3 linked regions of the Homo sapiens genome follow. The protein of the gene in region 2 interacts with the protein of the main gene of each other region in a biochemical or structural test. Each region holds a gene or a part of one and is shown on either strand. Other genes may lie near its edges.

The links. Proteins that work in one complex are often made in the same cells at the same time.
Region 1: the proteins of CLTC (region 2) and ARRB2 form a complex in vitro, tested with the Homo sapiens proteins (3 studies listed by BioGRID and IntAct, with this or other methods).
Region 3: the proteins of CLTC (region 2) and OCRL form a complex in vitro, tested with the Homo sapiens proteins (2 studies listed by BioGRID and IntAct, with this or other methods).

What each region holds. Positions count from the first base shown.
Region 1 is NC_000017.11:4,713,630-4,720,655, reverse strand, and holds part of ARRB2 (beta-arrestin-2), read right to left. Parts: intron 5,670-7,026; exon of another isoform or gene 5,644-5,669; coding exon 5,613-5,643; intron 5,471-5,612; exon of another isoform or gene 5,320-5,470; intron 4,684-5,319; coding exon 4,623-4,683; intron 4,510-4,622; coding exon 4,465-4,509; intron 4,245-4,464; coding exon 4,048-4,244; coding exon of another isoform or gene 3,985-4,047; intron 3,440-3,984; coding exon 3,380-3,439; intron 2,972-3,379; coding exon 2,904-2,971; intron 2,769-2,903; coding exon 2,633-2,768; intron 2,396-2,632; coding exon 2,311-2,395; intron 2,045-2,310; coding exon 1,972-2,044; intron 1,374-1,971; coding exon 1,236-1,373; intron 441-1,235; coding exon 357-440; intron 264-356; coding exon 184-263; intron 107-183; coding exon of another isoform or gene 71-106; coding exon 16-70; intron 1-15. UniProt on the Homo sapiens protein: Functions in regulating agonist-mediated G-protein coupled receptor (GPCR) signaling by mediating both receptor desensitization and resensitization processes.
Region 2 is NC_000017.11:59,622,893-59,629,918, reverse strand, and holds part of CLTC (clathrin heavy chain 1), read right to left. Parts: intron 1-7,026. UniProt on the Homo sapiens protein: Clathrin is the major protein of the polyhedral coat of coated pits and vesicles. Two different adapter protein complexes link the clathrin lattice either to the plasma membrane or to the trans-Golgi network.
Region 3 is NC_000023.11:129,557,257-129,564,282, forward strand, and holds part of OCRL (inositol polyphosphate 5-phosphatase OCRL), read left to right. Parts: intron 1-68; coding exon 69-179; intron 180-604; coding exon 605-694; intron 695-1,376; coding exon 1,377-1,497; intron 1,498-1,583; coding exon 1,584-1,745; intron 1,746-3,293; coding exon 3,294-3,395; intron 3,396-3,922; coding exon 3,923-4,037; intron 4,038-5,127; coding exon 5,128-5,244; intron 5,245-5,342; coding exon 5,343-5,530; intron 5,531-7,026. UniProt on the Homo sapiens protein: Catalyzes the hydrolysis of the 5-position phosphate of phosphatidylinositol 4,5-bisphosphate (PtdIns(4,5)P2) and phosphatidylinositol-3,4,5-bisphosphate (PtdIns(3,4,5)P3), with the greatest catalytic activity towards PtdIns(4,5)P2.

The DNA of each region.
Region 1 (7,026 bases), about 55 Mb from region 2:
GAATGAGTTTCTTACTTGGTATCAAATTCAATGAGGTTGGTGTCCACAGGGACATCTGTCTCCGGAGCGGCTGGGGGGACGGGAAGAGGGGGTGTGGGGGTGGGTGCTGGAAGGGCCAGTTTTCCTCCACTGGCCCTGCTTCAGGCCCTCCCTCTGAGGGCTTGGGGTGGGTAGTGTGCTCACCTGACTGGGGTCTGGGGAGGGGGATGTGGTCGTGGGGCTTGGGGTGCATAAGAACAAAAGGCAGCTCCACAGAGACATCCCTGGGGAAGGGGAGAGGCATCGTGAAGAGGACGACGACATGGGACTAGAGAGAGCCAGTGTGACCCCCACCCAGGCTCCCCCATGACACTCACCCGCCTCGAGACACCACCAGCTTCACCTTGACCCTGTAGGACACCAGGATTCCCAGCACCTCCTTGTTGGCACCCTCCTTCACGCTGCAATTGAGGGTGTTGGAGTCAGACCAGGGCCTATCACCCTGTCACCTGGCCCACCGTGGGGTTCCCACGGGGACTCTGGGCAGGACCACAAACTCGCACAGGCCCCCAGGGCCCCAGCAGCCCAGGCCGTGCGGTTATGGTACAGTGCGCACTGCACTCCCTGCTCAGAGCCTCCTTGGCTCCTCTCCAGGAAAAGCTGACGTCCTTCTCCGCTAACAGCCTTGCACCGTCTGGCTCTCCATTAGCCCCTGACCTCACCTCCTCCTCCTCTCCTGGTACTTAGTTCTTCTCCCTAAGTTGCCCTCCGGGCCTGCTGTGTGTGGCTGTGCAGTGAGAACCCTGAACAAAGGCATCCGGAGAGGTGAAATCCAGCCCTTTGTGAAGCTGGGGACCTCCAGGGCTGCTCCTGCCCGAGGGCACGATGGCACCTCCCCATTCCTCCAACACCCCAGGCTGCCCCACCTCTGAGTCTTTGTTTTCTCTCTGCCCAGAACCCTCCTTTCCTGCTCACCCACATTGCTTACTTCCGCTGGGTCCTTACTCCGAATTCACCTTCGCACCTCACTGCCCCCCATCCCTTCCTTCTCTGCCTGGCTTTTTCTCCTTCATACTTGTCACTAAACCTGCTGTACAGTGACCACTGATCAGATTTGGCTATCCTCCCTCCCCTAGAATGTAAGAGTTCTTTTTGTCTCTTCTGTTCACTGATACATCCCTGGCACACTAGGATAGAGCACTGAACCGACGTCTGGCCCCTGGCCTGCAGGGGACCCGCCCCAGCCCCACCCTCACATGGTGCTGGAAGCCAGGTTGGTGTCCTCGTGCTTGAGTTTCCCATCCAGGGCGAGACCCCGCTTCTCCCGGTTGTCGCTGAGCAGTGGGGTTATGGTGTACACCTTACAGAATGTGGAGCTGGGAGATACCTGGTCACTGGGGGTGGGGACAAGAGAACAAGATGCTTAGGGGCGCTGGGCTGGGCAAGGGGCGGCCTATGACCCCCAAGCAGCATCTCCCCCTCACTAGTCCCTTGTTTCTTTGGGCACAGGTCACAAGGGAGTAGGTTTTGGCTCAACGTGCTCAAGAAAATTAACAGCCTGGAGCCTGGCTGTGGAGGGAATACCCTTTTAAGTGAAGATGGTGGCCGGTCGCGGCGGCTCACGCCTGTAATCCCAGCACTTTGAGAGGCCGCGACGGGTGGGTCACTTGAGGTCAGGGGTTCGCAACTAGCTTGGCCAACATGGTGAAACCTCGTCTCTATTAAAAATAAGCCGGGTATGGTGGTGCATGCCTGTAGTCCCAGCTACGTGGGAGGCTGAGGCAGGAGAATCGCTTGAACCCGGGAGGTGGAGGTTGCAGTGAGCAGAGGTTGCCCCATTGCACTCCAGGCTGGGCAACAAGAGCAAAAACTCCATCTCAAAAAAAAAAAAAAAGGTGGAGATGGCTCAGGAAGAATTCTTCCTCCACCTCACATTCTCCTGATCCTGCTCTTCTCCCCTAGATTGGAACATGGGTCTCTCCCGATACTCACTCTTGTTCGAGTTGAGCCACAGGACACTTGTACTGGGCGGTGCTGAAGAGGCAGATGTCGGCGTACTGTCTCACTGTGGGGTGGGACGGGGTCAGGCAGCTCTGGATGGAGCACAAGCCACCACCACACCACAACTCCAGACCCCGTGGCGTGGCCCCCCCATGCTCCCCACTGAAGCAGTAAACACCGAGGCTCCCCGTATCATTATGGAACAACCTAAATTCTTTGAGCCCTGGTGGGTCTCCCGCACTGGGAAATGGCCTGGGCTGAGATCACACCAGGAGCCACCTGTGCAGTAACGCCCTCCCCGAAGACCCCCTTCCAAACCCCACCTCCTACCAGAGACTTTGATCTTCTTGACGGTCTTGGTGGAGTTGTTGGTGACGTGGACATTTACATTGAGGGGCTCCCCATGGTAGTACAGCTTTTGGGGGGAGGGGGTCATGTGAATTGGAACTGGTTTTCACTGTTCCCATCATCAGTGTGTCCCCAAACACAGACACATTGTTCTGGCCCCCTCCCCTCAAACCCAAGCCCACGGCAACTGTCCACACCCAGCCAAGGCAACCTCCTTTACAAATGTCCTCTTGATGTGTGGCTTCGCCCCTCCCCCAGGGTCTAAACTGCACCGTGGCATCCGTGTCACCCTCTCACGCCCCACCTCCTTGTCCAGGGAAGCCTCGAGGTGCAGGGACCGGTCAGACATGAGGAAGTGGCGTGTGGTTTCGGCTGAAGGCTGGGGGCCGGGTTTCTCCGGGGCGAACTGCACCTTTCGGATCACCAGCCGCACAGAGTTCCTGGGATCAGAGTAGGGGCAGGAGGGGTCATTCCTCACACACCCCAACCCTACTCCTCCCCCGCACGGGGCCTGGGCTCCTGGAAGCGGGGAGGAAAGCCTCCTCTTACACCACAGAGGAGGTCACTTCCCTTACCTTTTGTGGCTTTTCTCTTCTAGTGATTTAGCACAGAAGGCTCGAATCTCAAAGTCTACGCCGCAGGCCTCGGGGAGGGGAGAAAAGGCCACATCTTACCGGAGGCTCCCGCCACCATCACTGCCCTTTCTTCCTCCCCCTTCCCTCCTCTCGGGCAGGGACTCTTGCCTCATTGTGGTCTCACGACCCTGGGGACTAAGTCTTCTTCCTCTCCAAAGCCCAGAACCTGGCAGAGGCTTGGTCATGGTAGTGCAAGGGGAGCCCCCATCCCCAGATCCATGCGGGTCCACAGAGCAGGAGGCAGTGTCATGCGTGCACAATGACCACCACATACGCCCCACTTCCACGGGGGACACTGGCCTACCCTCGGCCCCACCCTGGCATCTCGACAGTTCACCCTCTGGCTCAGCTGTGCCTCCAGGCTCCTGCTGGCCCATGTCCTGCCCTAGGAGCCCTCAGAGCTGTTCCTCCCGTACCTTTCCTGTATCCTCTGGGCCTGGCTGCAGTGTGACGGAGCATGGAAGATTCTGGGGTATCTGTGGCGGAGGAAGGAGAAGACTTCAGTTCTTCCAGAAAGCCCCCAGATCTTCCTCCAAATCTCAACCTAAGAGGCTGGAGACGCTGGGTGTGGTGGCTCATGCCTGTAATCCCAACACTTTGGAAGGCTAAGGTGGGCGGATCACCTGAGGTCAGGGGTTCCAGACCAGCCTGACCAACGTGGCAAAACCCCATCACTACTAAAAATACAAAATTAGTCGTGTGTGGTGGTGCGTGCCTGTAATCCCAGCTACTCGGGAGGCTGAGGCATAAGAATCACTTGAACCTGGGAGGCGGAGGTTGCAGTGAACCAAGATTGTGCCACTGCACTCCAGCCTGGGCGACAGAGCGAGACTTTGTCTCAACAACAACAAAAAAGAGGCTGGAGAAAGGACTCCTGGGGATGAGAAGGGAAGAAGGAAGGGGCCCCAGAGAGGAGGCAGATAATCAAGGGCTTCCTGAATGCACTGGGACCCTGAAGGGAAGTGGATCTAGGGTCCCTGCCTCACTGTTTCTTCCAGATCTGCCCACAGCAGTGCCTTACCCCCACCCCAGACACAGTCCCAGCCCCAGCCCCCTGGCCCTCAGAGGGCAGGGGCATCCTCACGGTGAAGAAGAAGGGGTGGGCATGCTGGCCCAGCTTCCTCAGCAGCCGGTCCTGCAGGCGGGTGGGGGGCCGGGGTGGGTTGGGCACCGGGGGGAAGGCCTGGTAGGTGGCGATGAACAGGTCTTTGCGGAAGGACAAGCCCAGCACATCCAGGTCTTCACGGCCATAGCGGAAGGCGCAGGTGAGGGTCACAAACACTGGCAAGGGAGGGTGAGATGAGTGGTCAGGAGCCCCACTTCCCCAGTCCCCTGGCACCTAGCAGCCGCTGCTCCTCCCTCAGCAGCATAAGACTTGCCTGAACCCTACTCCTGGCTTCCACCTCCAGCCTCCATCTCTCTGGGGCGCCCTTCCAAGGCCAGCCCATTTCACTTCCCTAGCCCCCACTTTCCCTGGGCCCCCTGGACTTGGGGCCAGTACCTTTGCGGTCCTTCAGGTAGTCAGGGTCCACAAGCACCACGCCATCTAGGAGGGGGACACACCAGCTCACTTCCTGAAAGGGCCGCTCCCCGCTTTCCTGGGCCCGGGAACTTCTTCCCCTCTTGGGGAACGAGCTGTCCCTTTCTGGGAAAACTTACCTACAGGGTCCACTTTGTCCAGGTGATCTACGAAGTCCCGCTTGCCCAAGTACACGGTGAGCTGAGGATGTCAAGGGGTCACAGGGGAGATTGGGGAGGATGGTGACAGGGCATCGGAGCCCTCAAAACTGGCTGCCCTGCCCGGGGATCTCCAGGCTGGGCTATCAGGAAGGAGTTGTTCCAGGTTTCCTCCCAATAGTGTTGGAAAGTGAGGGTGGTGGCGTTTCTCAGACTAGTGGACCTTTAGGCTTTTGAGCTGCTCCTTTATCTCTGCACACCTCTGCCCACCAGCCCGGTGTGTGTGTGTTTGTGTGTGTGTGTGTGTGTGTGTGTGTGTGTCCTCAGCCAACCAGTCAGGTGTGTGTGTGAACATGTATGTGCATGTGTGTCTGTGTGTGTCCTCAGGGAGGACTCAGCCCAACCAGCGAGGTGTGTTTGTGTGTGTCCGTGTGTGTGTGTGTGTGTCCGTGTGTGTGTGTTTGCATCCTCAGGGAGGACTCAGCCCAACCAGCCAGGTGTGTGTGTATGTGTGTATGTGTGTGTGTGTCTGTGTGTGTGTGTGTTTGGATCCTCGGGGAGAACTCAGCCCAACCAGCCAGCTAGAGAGCAGCTGCCACCCTCACTAGGTCCCCTCAAGGGGCTCTAGGATAAATAGGCCATAGCCCGGGGGCTGTTAGGTTTTCCCAGCCCCACGCACCTTGGGTTGGCTCCTAGGAGGGCTACAGGCACATGGCTTGCTTTTGGCCTCCTCCTCTGTGGTCTTGCTTGGGGACCCAAGCCTGCCCCACCCAGCCCTGTGGCTGGCTCAGGCTGAGCAGCCTCTGCGGCAAGGGGCTTCAGGAGGGAAGGAAGTCGGCGCTTAGCTGTCACAGGAAGTGGGGAGCTAGGGGTTGGGGATCATCTTTGGGTAGGTTGGGGATCGTCTAGGGGAAGGCTGGGCTTTGTTGGGGCCCAGGGAGGGTCAAAAGGGTAAGTGCTGTGGAGACTCACCTTGCAGTTAGGGCTCGACTTCTTGAAGACCCTAACAAAACAGAAAGGGAAACCCCACTGCCTCCCTCAGACTCAGCAGGGACCCCACACCAGGACCCTCTCCCTCCCAGGCCTGAGAAGCAGTGCTCACCCAGGCCTCCTGCCTGAGGCTGTGGGGCTTTGCCCAGCTCTGCCCCTTTCCCCTTCTTCCCGGAAGGTCCTTCCTATTTCTAACGTGGTGGCAAGGGGAACCCTTCTTCCCGGAAGGTCCTTCCTATTTCTAACGTGGTGGCAAGGGGAACCCTTCTTCCCGGAAGGTCCTTCCTATTTCTAACGTGGTGGCAAGGGGAACCCTTCTTCCCGGAAGGTCCTTCCTATTTCTAACGTGGTGGCAAGGGGAACCCTTCTTCCCGGAAGGTCCTTCCTATTTCTAACGTGGTGGCAAGGGGAACCCTTCTTCCCGGAAGGTCCTTCCTATTTCTAACGTGGTGGCAAGGGGAAATGCCCCTTGTCTTGTCCACCCTCATTCGTCCCCTTCCCTCCCCAGTAATGGCCACTGGTTGCCCTAGGAACCACCCAGGCTCTTCCCAGAGGACCCGAATGGGCAGGTAGCCACAGTGTCTGGATAAGACCTAACCATCTTTCCATCTGGTCTACAGCTCTGACAGCTGGAGCATATAGGAGAGCAATGACCCTGGCCTTTGGCCCTCAGATAGTTTCTACCACAGGCCCTACCCAAGTTCGACTCTACTCACCTCCAACTGTCCCCAACTCCGACCTCAAGAGCTTAAAAGCCTATTTGTCTTTTAAGGCCCAGCCTTTAGGAAGCTGACCCAGCCCAGACCCTGGTCGCTCCTTGTTTTGGGTTCCTGTCACACCTTGTTTATGTTTTACTTGTGGTGTGGTAGCACACAAGGATAGTTAGCTCCCTCCCTCCTCAGACTGTGAGCCTCAGAGGCCTTATTAATTTAGGCATCTCCAGCACAATGCCAGCCATATCATGAAGATGGTAATGCTGCTAACATTTCAGAGTGACTACTCCATGCCCAGCACTGTTCCAAGTGTTTCAAATGTGTCATCTCTTGTAATACTCTGTTTTTTGAGACAGAGTCTCACTCTGTTGCCCAGGCTGGAGTGCAGTGGTGCGATCTCAGCTCACTGCAACCTCCGCCTCCCAGGTTTAAGTGATTCTCCTGCTTCAGCCTCCTGAGTAGCTGGGATTACAGGAGTGAGCCACCATGCCCGGCTATGTTTTGTATTTTTTTTTTTTTTTTGGAGATGGAGTCTCACTCTATCACCAAGGCTGGAGTAGAGTGGCACGCTGTCAGCTCACTGCAACCTCCACCTCCTGGGTTCAAGCGATTCTCATGCCTCAGCTTCCTGAGTAGCTGGGATTAGAGGTGCCTGCCATCATGCCTGGCTAATTTTTTTTTTG
Region 2 (7,026 bases):
ACAGAGCAATCATAATGGTGCAGTTTTGTAACATCAAATCTATTTGCGTTATCAGGAGAGTTGTTTTTCTCTTATCTTTCTATGTAAATTATGATCTCTAGGCTGGGTGTGGTGGCTCATGCCTGTAATCCCAGCACTTTGGGAGGCCAAAGCAGGCGGATCACAAGGTCAGGAGTTCAACACCAACCTGGACAACATGGTGAAATCCCATCTGTACTAAAATTACAAAAATCAGCCAGGCATGGTGGCGGGCACCTGTAATCCCAGCTACTTGGGAGGCTTAGGCAGAAGAACCGCTTGAACCCGGGAGGCAGAAGTTGCAGTGAGCCAAGATCATGCCACTGTACTCCAGCCTGGGCGACAGAGCAAGACTCCATCTCAAAAAAAAAAAAAAAAAAAATTATGATCTCTAGAAACATGCCCGAATGGACTGCTTTTCACGGGATATTTAAATCATCTGCTTATAACATCCAACAGTTCCAACTGTGAGGCCATACACAGGAGAATTTTAGATGTGTAAAATTTGTCTCTCACTAATCCAGTTGATTTCAAGCCTACAGCAGCCTTTGCCAAACAGCATTCTGGTGCTCAGAACAGAAGCAACTGTGAGAGGACACAATACTATGGAGATTCAGTAAGGCTTTTAATAAGGAGACTCTTTCCTGAGGATATCTGTGGTAAAATAAAGAAACCTGCCTTAGATTTTCATAGTTCAATATGACCAAATATAGAATATTGCAGAGACTGGAGAAAGAGATGGGTTTTTGTAAACCATGTTCTCTCTACACGTTTTTCCCCCTTATTATTCATCTTTAAATAATGAGATCTATCCAAAGTCAGCTGTTTGCCAAGCAGAGCATATATACTGACAGTCTTTAGCTTCAGTCTGTCCACTTTGGTGGTTTTTTTTAAGCCACCTTTCTCAGATGAGCAGCTAATCAGAAATAAATGCAAGTTGGCCAGGCACGATGGCTCACGCCTGTAATCCCAGCACTTTGGGAAGCTGAGGAGGGTAGATTATTTGAGGTCAGGAGTTTGAGACCAGCCTGGCCAACATGGTGAAACCCCATCTCTACTAAAAATACAAAAAAAATTCGCCAGGCCTGGTGGCGGGCCCCTGTAGTCCCAGCTACTCAGGAGGCTGAGGCAGGAGAATTGCTTGAACCTGGGAGGCGGAAGTTGCAGTGAACCAAGATTGCACCACCGTACTCCAGCCTGGGCAACAGAGTCAACTCCCAATCCAATTCTCGTTTTTTCGTCTTCTATGACTCCCAGTTTCAACCTAGGGTCATGAAAAACTGTCATCCCTGAGACCCCCAGTGTGCATCACTGAGGAACTCCAGAAATCGACGGATGCAGAAAATGAGAAATTAGAGAGTCTGGTGTAACTTCAAGATCTTGGCTTCAATAACTGGGTAGATGGTAGTTTTTCTCCTTTAGTACGGCACATATATTCAACTCAAGTGGACAAAGGGAAACTCTTCCAGGGTGGAGGGGAAGAACTAATATTCGAGTGCCTGTAAGGGGTTAAGGGGCTAAATATTATACTACAAATACAAAAACATACTGTAGTCTAACTTTAAAATTGCCAGGAAATATTGTTTTAATAAATGAGGAAGTTGAGACAAGTTGAAAACCTGACATAATCAATAGATAAGCCCAGATTAAACATCTGAGACATTTTCCAGAATAGCACACTGCAGAGTTTTTTAATGTGACAAAATATGGCTTTAATGGATCTGGTTCCTATTCTTTCAGCAATAATCTTTAAAACCGTCTTACTTCAGAACTTGAAGAAAATCCTTATTTACCTAAGGATTAGGAACAAGAAGTATTAACAGTACTGGCAGTCTGCCTCCAAAGCACAACCCTACAAGTCTGTAACCATTTTCCTTTCTACCATGATGCTACTCAAAATGAGCAAATATATTCCATTGTCACCTTCATTTCCTATCCCTTTCATGCACAACTGCCTTCGTTGAGTTCAAGCTTCTATTTCTTGGCATAAACACAAAAACATGAATTTACAGTAAAATAGAAAGCAGAAGTTTCCTCCTTTCACAAGTGGCTTCAGACTGGAACACACTCATTCTTTTCAGTAAGAAAAAGTCTATAGAAAAGTGTGACAAGTTCAGTCTTATGAGAGGGATGCAGACAATCCTGGTTACAAGTTAACCGGATCCCAATCATCCTGCACAATTTTCCAATAGGAAACAGGATAAAGTCCTTAAAAAAGATACAGCTAAATAATCATTCAAGGCATAAAGTCAGATGTTAGTTTGCTGTCTCCTACTTTTCTCATAATATAAAAAATATTTCACGATAAACAAACGACAGTACTACTAGAATCAAAGAACATCACAGCATAGATATAAACAATTGTGGTACATTTTGCAATTCAAATGATACAGACCATTTACCAAATGAGGCAATGAGCCAAATGAAAGAATAAATATTAAAAGTCTGACTGCTCACTAGCTGTGTGACTCTAAAAGTTACCTACTATGAACTTCAGTTGCCCAATCTCTACAATAAGGCTAATCTGACCTAAGCACAAGGGTTCTCTTGCTAATTAAATGAGATAATAAACATTAAATATTTAATACAGTTCTTGGCACGTAATAGGTGCTCAAACAACTATAATGGCCCATGTATTTTGATTTTATGGATTAGATTACAGGACAATTAAGATTTGAATAGTTACTGCCTCAAAAATAGGACAAGGCTTGGTGTCTCACACTTGTAATTTCAGCACTTTGGGAGGCTGTGGCAGGTGGACTGCTTGAGCCCGGGATTTTGAGACCATCCTGGGAAACATGGCAAAACCCCGACTCTACAAAAAAAATACAAAAATTAGCCGGGTTTGGTGGCGCACGCCTGTAGTCCCAGCTATTTAGGGAGCAGAGGTGGGAGGATTACCTAAGCCCAGGGAGGTCAAGGCTGCAGTGAGCCTTGATCATGCCACTGCACTCCAGCCTGGGCAACAGAGTGAGACCCTGTCCCCACCCCCCAAAAAAAGTAGGACAAAAATATCTTAAATTATGTCTTAATTTAAGGAGATAATACAAAAGAAGAGACTCACAAAAGTCTGACAGATGGGTTTTGCATAACACATTTAGGTCCAAGCTTTCAGCCATCTTTTGAGTTAAGAGCATTAGCCATAGGCACTTAACCAAGAAGCAAAGACAAGACACCCAGAGCTGTAAACTTTGCTGTGGCTCAGAAGACAGGTTTATTTCATGAAGTAGTTTTGGCATGGCATATAGTGCATGAACTTAGAGAAACAGCCTCATTCTAATATACAGGACTAAAATATCAGCCATGAACCTACTGCTCATCTAAGTGAGAAGATTCACTTCAACACTACCACCCTAAAAAAGGACACATACAACACATACAATAACTCTAACAATCGCCTGACCGGCATTCCATATGGGTATTTTATCCGATATGATTCATTAAGTTTTTTTTTCAAATATGTCTGTTCAAGGAACCCTAATTTAAAATGTACCAGTGGCACACAATGAGACTCGTGGAACATAATAAAAGATTTATTTAAAAGTTTCTTTTTGGGGGGCAGTTTCAGAGTGTAATCAACTTTGTATCATATCAATATTTGTATTAAACTGTGCACAATATCAAATGTTCGAACACATAAAAGATCCACAATCAAGTAGACAACATCAATGGTTGGAATAACAAGTGTACAGCCTTTGCCAACTCATCAATGGAAGCATGAATGCAAGGTGTAGTCCATCTTGTTTACCACCTTGTCCCTAGAGTCTAACACAGTTCCTCATCTGCAGTAAGTACTCAAATCTTAGGTAAATGTGTTAACCCCAAATACTTATACACCATAAAACACTGGATCTGTAAATGAATATTGTGTCATTGGTTGAGATACCTGAATAAAATGTACTGGACAAAAATTATTTAGCCAATAATTAATGCTCCTAAAATGCTACGTAAAGTACTTTCACATACATGATCTCAGATCCTCATAATAACTTTGTGAGATAAGTATGCCCATTTCCCAGAGAAAAAAAAGCAAGAGGTTAGACTTAACCTGTGTTGTCCAATATGGTAACCACAAGTCACAACCTACATACCATAATGAGCACTTGAAATGTGGTTACCGTAATTTTAAAGTAATTAAAATTAAATAATAACCAGTAAGTGATTCAATTACTGGAAAACTTAAGTATGTTTGGGATCACTGAAGTATTGCATATCTGCTTTCCTTTTTCTTCATTTTTGTTTGTTTAATATAGAGACGAGGTCTTAACTCTGTTACCCAGGCTGGTCTTGAATTCCTGGGCTCAAACAATGCTCCTACCTTGGCTCACAAAGTGCTGAGTTTACAGGCATGAGCCACTACCCCCAGCCCCAAATCTGCCTTTCTAACTGTAAATTTTATGAACTCTAAATACGGACCAGGATTTCCAAAGAAAATAGGGTCTGAATTGATATATGCTCTAAGTACAAAATATACATAGCCGGGCACGGTGGCTCACACCTGTAATCCTAACACTTCGGGAGGCCGAGGCAGGCATTTCACGAGGTCAAGAGATTGAGACCATCCTGACCAACATGGTGAAACCCCATCTTTACTAAAAATACCAAAAAATAAAAATAAAAAAAAAATAGCTGGGCGTGGTAGCACGCGCCTGTAGTCCCAGCGACTCGGGAGGCAGAGGCAGAAGAATCACTTGAACCTGGAAGGCGGAGGTTGCAATGAGCCGAGATCCACCATTGCACTCCAGCCTGGCGACAGAGTGAGACTTTGTCTCAAAAAAAAAGAAAAAAAAACCACACACACTAGATTTAGAAAATTTAGTATGAAAAAGAATGTAAGGTATCTCATTAGTAAATTTTATACTGATTACATATTGAAATAATATTTTGCATATCCCAAGTTAAATAAAATATATTAAATTTAATTTTATCTGGGCATGGCATGGTGACTCACGCCTGTAATCCCAGCACTTTGGGAGGCCAAGGCGAGCAGATCACTTGAGCCCAATAATTTGAGACCAGCCTGAGCAATATAGCAAGACTCTGTCTCTACCAAAAAAACCCAAAATTAATTAATTTTATGTTTTTTCACTTTTAATATGGCTGCTAGAAAACTTAAAAAATTATTTATATGAGGCCAGGAGCAGCAGCTCATGCCTATAATCCCAGCACTTTGGGAGGTCGAGGTGGGCAGATCATTTGAAGTCAGGAGTTGAAGACCAGCCTGGCCAACATGGTAAAACCCCATCTCTACTAAAAATGGAAAAATTAGCCAGGCATGGTGGCAGACACCTAAAATCCCAGCTACTTGGGAGGCTGAGGCAGGAGAATCACTTGAACCTGGCAGGTGGAGGTTGCTGTGAGCCGAGATCGCACCACTGCACACTAGTCTAGGTGACAGAGGACAGAGTGAGACTCTGTCTCAAAAAAAAAAAAAAAAAAAAAAAAAGTATGTGGCTCATATTATTTTTCTATTGGACAGCATTTGTTTCAACAACCCCTAAAGCCCTCCCTGTTCTGTCTACTATACCACATTGTTAATCTATAAACAAGTAGAGAGAACTCACCTCTCTGGGCCTAAGTCCAACAGACAAAAAGCACTCTAGGATACTGTATAACTTCTTTTTTTAAGGTCAATTATCCAATTTCTTTGAAATATTTTGTGTCAGAAGACTCAGGTACACATCCCATTCGGACAGCATTCCCACTACTTTATGAGTCTCACTTTTTAGAAAGGTGTCTGGGGGGATTGAGTGAAGATCTGAAAGTACCTAGCCAAATTTACAGCACATAATAAGGTCTCAAGAAGTCTGCTGCTAGTCATTGTTCATCACCACCACTTTCCAAGACAGACAGTATTCAGTTAAAACTTTTGAACAATGAGTGTTTTAATTTTAGCTAACGAAATATTCTAAATACATAAACATGAGTGGTGAGATAAATCTTCAAACTTACAAAACACATCAGCATGGCCTATAATTGTGCAGTCCAATGTAGGAGTCAATTGTCACATGTGGCTATTTACATTTAAATTAAAAAGAAATTAAAGCAAAAATTTAGTTTTTCAGTCACATCAGCCACATTTCAAGTGCTCAATATCCCTATGTAGCTGGTAGACAGTTCCATCATTGAAGAAAGTTCTACTGGACAATAACTCAAAGAGAAAAAGCCACAACGGTAACAATGACAGGGAAAACACCTTGTTAAATATAATTTGAATAACATATAAACATATGTATGGAAAAAACAATTTTGCAAAGAAGCTGAGGATTCGATATAAATGGAATCTTTTAAAAGCAAGGTACAAATTCCAATTATGGTCAGAAACAATTGTTCAAGAGCAACTACCATGGTTCCTGAAATGTGAATTTTCCTAAATACTCAAATGAAAATGATTGTGTTCTACATACACACCATTCTGTGTCTTATTTCCTAATCAGAGTGAAAGCACTTTCACTAAAATTAACCACACACTTTAAGCTGGGTAAACTGACCATCAAGAAAATTCTGAAGAATATGATACATTTTAAACTTAGAAGCTATTCCCAGGAGACTGCCGCATAATTCCAGGAAGTCTACCTCTTCCAGAGAGTACAACTAAGCATGTAGTAAATCCCAGTACTTAGCATTGCTTTCTATTCACAATCCGAACTAACTATAGCAAGAACCCCTAACATTTGACTCAACAACACATTCCATGCCTGCATCTATGGATCAAAGGGGAAAGAACAGGGTAGGGAGATTTTTAATTGAAGACCCAAAGAATCTAGGAATACAATGGAATGTGTCAAGTGGCCTAAAGATACTTAATGTGCCAGAAAATTGAAAATCACCAAAAAATTAAGAATCACAGGCAATATTTTATATATGTAGCCTAGGATTTTTATAGAATCTTCAATTCCAACAGTATCTTGCTCAAATAGGCACTCATTTATTAACTGCTATCAGTCTAAACAGTCTAGGAAAAGAGAAATCTTCATATATTCACATTCATTTGCTGTAGGTCCAAGC
Region 3 (7,026 bases), on a different chromosome or scaffold from region 2:
TGAGAATATGATCCCAGTAAAACATTTTATCCCATAGCAGTATATGTATGGATTTCAATTCTTTTTAGGTGGCTGCAAAATTCGGGTTCAGGGGGACTGGATCAGAGAGCGCCGCTTTGAAATCCCTGATGAGGAACACTGTTTGAAGTTCCTCTCAGCTGTCCTTGCTGCTCAGAAAGGTAACTAAAGACTCAGCGATTTTCTTTCTTCTATTTCAACGGGAGTGGAATTCTGACATGCTGATACAGAGGAAAGTGGCCATTGGCAAAATACCTCACCCTTTAAGCCCTGATAGCTGATTTTTTTTTCTTCAGGAGTGAACACAGGGATAGGTTAGGGAAAAAATCTGCCCAGCTTTAAGGACACTAGGCAAGTTTTCAGAATATTCAGTGTCATGGCAAGCACAGCTTACCATAGACTATAATTCTCCTTCTGCCCCTAGATGACCCCAGAGCTGCCCTCATTTCCTTAGTTTCTTCCACTGTATCCAAAAATGGTGCTGGCCCCTGCATATAAGGAATGTTGAAAGAATGGCTTTTGGCTATAGTAAATTCTACTCAGTGAAAGACTTCCCAGTTTCTGACCATGAACCTTATCTCTCTAGCTCAGTCACAGCTTCTTGTTCCAGAGCAAAAGGACTCATCTAGCTGGTACCAGAAATTAGACACTAAGGACAAACCTTCTGTTTTTTCAGGTACTAAAAAGTTCCTGGTTTCCTTGTTGCTATGGTCATTGCAGAGTCAGTAGATTTTGTCAGGCCAAATATGGTGATGTAGATTAAAGCTGATGTCAGACACATTCTCCTGCAGAGTAGTTTTATCAAGTCCAGGCCCACTGACCAGTGTTCACTCCTTATCCTTCCTGTAGCATGGTAGCTGTTCAGGAGCCAGCTTAGCAGGGTGGTAGAAAGTACAAGCTCGAGAGCCAGACAGCCTGGATTTGAATCCCAAGTCAAGAACTTACTAGTTGTACAACCTTCATCAAGTTACTCAACAACTCTGAACTTCCCTTTTCCTTTCTGTAATATGGGAAGATTTTTAATAGTACTTACTTCTTGGAGTTTTTGTGATGATTAAGTGAGATCATGATATAGTCCCTTACTCTCAACCAGGCATTGTGCTCAGTCTTCAATAAATGTTAGCTATTACTAGTCTGTTCCAAGTTCTTATAAACTTCTATTGTTCTAGTTAGTATATCAGTGCTTCAGGGATAGGTATGCTTCTTCGAACTCCAATCCAAGTAATTTCTACCCTTATGATAGTTTTCTGTTTAGTAATACCACTGATCAAATTGTGATCAAATCAAAGCCCTGTTACCCTGGATATGTTGGATGTTAGATTTTTTCCCCGTTTGACTTTGGGGTCTGTGTCTTTCAGGGCTTCTTGGATTTGAAGACAATTTTTCTTCTATGAATTTGGACAAGAAAATAAATTCACAAAATCAGCCTACTGGGATTCATCGGGAACCCCCACCTCCACCCTTTTCAGTGAATAAAATGTAAGTCCCATGTGAAAACATATTTGCCTTGTAGGAGAATTATAGTTTAAACAATTTTACTTTTGAATCTCTCATTTATTTGCTAGGCTTCCACGTGAAAAAGAAGCTTCTAACAAGGAGCAGCCCAAAGTGACCAACACCATGCGGAAGCTCTTTGTACCAAATACCCAATCTGGGCAGCGGGAGGGTCTCATCAAACATATCCTGGCAAAGCGAGAGAAAGAATATGTCAACATTCAGACTTTCAGGTTAGTGTCTCTTTTGCTTCCTGAGTCTAAAAAGTTAGTATATATAACAGACAGTGGCCTGTTGATATTTAAGACATTAGCCTAATTAAGAATCAAAATATGATAAAAAGGAATGGTTGCCTGTTTCAAGCTCCTGTCTCTATGCTGGCCAATAACATGCATATCAGAAATAATGCAGATGCTACAGTTTCCCTTGGATTTTCTTTTTTTGTGTGTGTGGGTCAGGGTCTCTCTTTGTCACCCAGGCTGGAGAGCAGATAGATCATGGCTTACTGTAGCCTCAACCTCTCAGTCGTAAGCAATCCTCCCACGCCAGCCCTGCAAGTAGGTGGAACTACAGGTGCACACCACCACATCCAGCTAATATTTGTGTTTTTTATAGAGACTGGGTTTCACCAGGTTGCCCAGGCTGGTCTCAAATTCCTGAGCTCAGGCAATCCACCCGCCTTGGCCTCACAAAGTGTTAGGATTACAGGCTTGAGCCACCGTGCTTGGCCTTCCCTTGGATTTTCTAACTACTAATAATGCCATGTCTACTAATGTCTCTACTGAGTCCTAGAGAACCAAATCAAGGTCACATGTACTAGAGAATTTTCCCCTAGCACATTCCATAAGCAAGCGTGTTTATATATCTGGCCTGTTAAGTTTTTTTTTTTCAGCCAATATTAGAAAATTAAAGTCCATCATTACCACTAGCTCTTAACTTACTTACTTTGGTAAATAAAGAAAGTTTCACCCAGTCCTCTTGATTGGGAGGTCTATCTTGGGTTCTTTTATCTGTATTATTTTTTATTTCATCTTTTTTCTGGACTTGTGTGTGTATGCTGCATGTGAGGTACCATGTGGCATGTATCGCCAATGCATGAAGCAACACCACATTTCTTTGTTATTCATGAGCAGAATGTACCCTTCTAGTCCAAGATTCTAGTCCCATCTGCTATCCTGTCATACCTCATTTATTCTAATTCAGTCATAACTATATCCCTATGCTAAAACTTGCAGTTCCTCATATCCCCCACTATGCTTATATTTGTGTGTAAACAGTTAAGACAGTCATGAGTTTTCCCTTCTGCTTTCCCCCTTAATACTATGTCTGCCTCATCAGAATTTCCTACACAGATGTCCTTGTAATCCTTCAGGAAGTGAGTTCCTGGAGTCAACTATAGCCCCTTATAGAACATTTATCCATATTTGACTAGCTTACAGCATGAAGATACCTCTTTCCCATCCATAAGCTCTCCTATCAAGTATGAGTTTGGATGGAGCTTAATTGAAAGGAAATGTGGTATAGCAATTACCTTTGCATTTTTTAAAAATAAAGACTTGGTTTCCTTCTGTAGTTTTACTTAATGTAAAATTTAGAGAAAATAAGCCCACTGCCTTTGTGTTCTAGATGCAAAAGATCTTTCTTACATATGTGGCAAAACATTTTGAGGAATTATGTTAGCATATTGTGAACATACCTTTGTATGGAAGCGAAAAGAAAGAACTTCTGTTGGTTTATACTTGATCTTTGTTTTCAAATTATCTTTTCGTATTATGTATTAGATTTTTTGTTGGAACTTGGAATGTGAATGGCCAGTCTCCAGATAGCGGGTTAGAACCTTGGCTGAACTGTGATCCCAATCCTCCTGATATCTACTGCATTGGGTAAAGAACACTTCTGGAATTTCCTTTTGGCTATATGTTTGGTGTTCATTTACATGATGTTTTGCCTTTTTTAAAAAAGACTGTTGGTAAAACCTACTGTAGACTATACACGAGAGTTAACTTGCGGGTCAAATTTGTGAGAACAGAAATGAACAGATACCTAAAATGGTGTAAGGAAGCATCTAATTTTCTTGAAACCCGTAGGAATCTATATATTCTGCATAGAAACTAAGACTTGGGGTCAGTTCTAACAGTGACAGTTCCTAGGATATAAGAGCAAAGCTCTGCTGTTATCCTCTGTGGGAGGTATTTTGATTTATTTTTTGCATAGCTTATGAATGTACTTGTGGGAATTCTTTAGAAAAGAAAGCTACTTGTTCTTACTGATAACCTGGGTGAACAGAGCAGTTCTATAAAATTTATCTCTCTCCCATCTTTTTTTCATCTAATGTTTCAACATATGGGACAGGAGGTAGCCAGAGATAATTATGGGATATGTATAGATCTCATATCCCTTTTTTCCTCAGATTCCAAGAACTGGACTTGAGCACAGAAGCCTTCTTCTACTTTGAATCTGTGAAGGAACAAGAATGGTCCATGGCTGTAGAGAGAGGTTTGCATTCCAAAGCCAAGTATAAGAAAGTAAGCCGCATTTAATTATCTTTTTAAGTGTATGACTAAATAGGGCTCACCGGGAGTTATTCCATTATCTACAACTTGTTCCAAAAGAATAGTTTAATTGAATTCTTCTCTGTGTGTAATACTGGGATAGGGCAGATTGATCATTCATCCTTATTTCCTAGAAAAAAAAATCCCTAAGCTTTCTGATACTATATTTTCATTGCTTAGATAGCTTTTAGGGGAAAAAAGAATTTTATTATGCTTATATCAATACTTAGTTTGAAATAATTACATATAAGATTTAGATTACTCACTGACATGGTCAGAATTGAATGCTTTACAGAAAAGCAATATGAAACGTGGGCGCATGGTGCATGTGTTGCAATCAGAGCAAGAATAGAAGTGGTGTGGAATTTGAACGAGTTCTAAACTTGGTTTTAAGTTAAGAGGAGAGTTGACTTTAGCAAGATGGGCCAATTTGTTTGTCTTTAGAAGGTATGTGGTAAAGGCATTTAGCTACCAGAAGAGTTAATTACAGGGCTATCATACTAAGGTCTCTAAAAGAAGTAATGTGAGTAATTTTTCTCTACATCTTCTAACAGTTTATATAGGTAATAAAACTCCTGGGGATGTTATTCCTCTCATATAGGTCCCTGACTAATGTATATCTCAGACATATTTCTAGCTGTAGTTCACAAGTTAAAAATAAGTAAAAAAGATTGCTGTTTGGTTGATTTCAATTTCTTAGAAAATTAGACATCAGAAACTAGGAAGGAAAGGTGGAAGGAACAAGCTGGGATAGTGGCTTTATTATTTGAACTTTTAATGCTGCTTACTCCTGGTAGGCTAAGAAGTGATTAAAAGAATAGATCTAGAGCTGAAAGTACTCATTGTCCCTCCCAGCTTTTAACTCTTATTGGTCAGTGCCAGATTAGAGCCTCCCCAGAGAATATTAGTTTCCACTTGACGGGGTCCACTGAGAAATTAGAGGATATGAAGTCAGATTTGGGCACTAGTATATCATCTTGATGGAAAATTAGTCGTGGGACATTAGAAATGTGGCAAAGATTGGTATTAACATTAACCTTTTGTAACTCCCCGGAACTCATAGGTTCAACTGGTGCGCCTTGTTGGGATGATGCTTCTTATATTTGCCAGAAAGGATCAGTGTCGATACATTCGTGATATTGCTACAGAAACAGTTGGAACTGGAATCATGGGGAAAATGGTGAGTTACTTTGGAAATGAGCTTGATTATTATTCATGTTCATGTAAAGTTCAGTTGCTTGTTCTGTGTACTAATTGAATAATTACTCTTGCTAACAGGGAAACAAAGGTGGGGTAGCTGTGAGATTTGTATTTCACAACACCACCTTTTGCATTGTCAATTCCCATCTGGCTGCACACGTGGAGGACTTTGAGAGAAGGAATCAAGATTATAAGGACATTTGTGCGAGAATGAGTTTTGTGGTCCCAAATCAGACCCTCCCGCAGTTGAACATCATGAAACATGAGTAAGTGGTTAACTCACCTGTAGCCTTTGAGTAGTGGCTACAGGAGTTTGGATAGTGTAGAGATTAAATGTGAGATACTGTAGAGCTGTGAAGAGTGAAAGATTACCAGTGAGGGATTGGGGTCACAAAGGAGAGGGTTTTTGAGTAATAACAGAATCATTGAGGCAGAGAAATTAGACTTGATATCAGAGGAAAAGATAGTTCTATTAGTGGGGCACCTAGAATAATGCTGGAGGGTCTGTAGTTGGAGTCAGTTTTTATTGTTTTTATGATAAAATAGAAATATTCATTGCAAATGTAATAAAAGATAAAATTAGAAGTTAAATTTCCTCATTTCTTATTCTCTACCTAGCCAGTCCCTCTCTCCAAAGGAAACCATTCTTAACAGTTGGGTGTGTAGCCTTTTAGATCTGTACTGTCCAATATGACAACCAGTAGCCATATATGGCTGTTAGGTACCTGAAAGTGACTGGTCCAAATTAAGATATGCTGTATGCATAAGCTATATATTGGATTTTAAAGACTTAGGAAGAAGATGTACGATATCTTGATTTCTAAAATATTGATCACATGTTGAAATAATTTGGATATATTGAGTAAAATGAAATTTATTGATACTCACTTGTTTTTTTTCTTTTTAAATGCAGCTACTAGAAAACTTAAAATTATATTGTGAGGTGCATTATAATTCTATTAAATAGCACTATTCTAGCCTTTTGTCTATTCATATACAAACACACACATAGGTACTTGGTGTATAAGACTGTATTATTCTATTTATTGTGGATTCCTTTCCAAGCCAGTATATATAGATCTACATTATTCTTTTTAATGGCTGTGCTTATTAAAAACAGGGGCAGCAGAGAGAGGTCAGTGAAGAATGGGATTTAATAAGCATAGAAGCAGAGATGTGTTGAGGAGTAGATGTGGTGGTAGAAAATGATTAGTTTTAAAGAAATTAATATACCTAAAACCATGAAAACCCTAGAAGAAAACCTAGGCATTACCATTCAGGACATAGGCATGGGCAAGGACTTCATGTCTAAAACACCAAAAGCAATGGCAACAAAAGCCAAAATTGACAAATGGGATCTAATTCAACTAAAGAGCTTCTGCACAGCAAAAGAAACTACCATCAGAGTGAACAGGCAACCTACAAAATGGGAGAAAATTTTCGCAACCTACTCATCTGACAAAGGGCTAATATCCAGAATCTACAATGAACTCAAACAAATTTACAAGAAAAAAACAACCCCATCAAAAAGTGGGCAAAGGACATGAACAGACACTTCTCAAAAGAAGACATTTATGCAGCCAAAAAACACATGAAAAAATGCTCACCATCACTGGCCATCAGAGAAACGCAAATCAAAACCACAATGAGATACCATCTCACACCAGTTAGAATGGCAATCATTAAAAAGTCAGGAGACAACAGGTGCTGGAGAGGATGTGGAGAAATAGGAACACTTTTACACTGTTGGTGGGACTGTAAA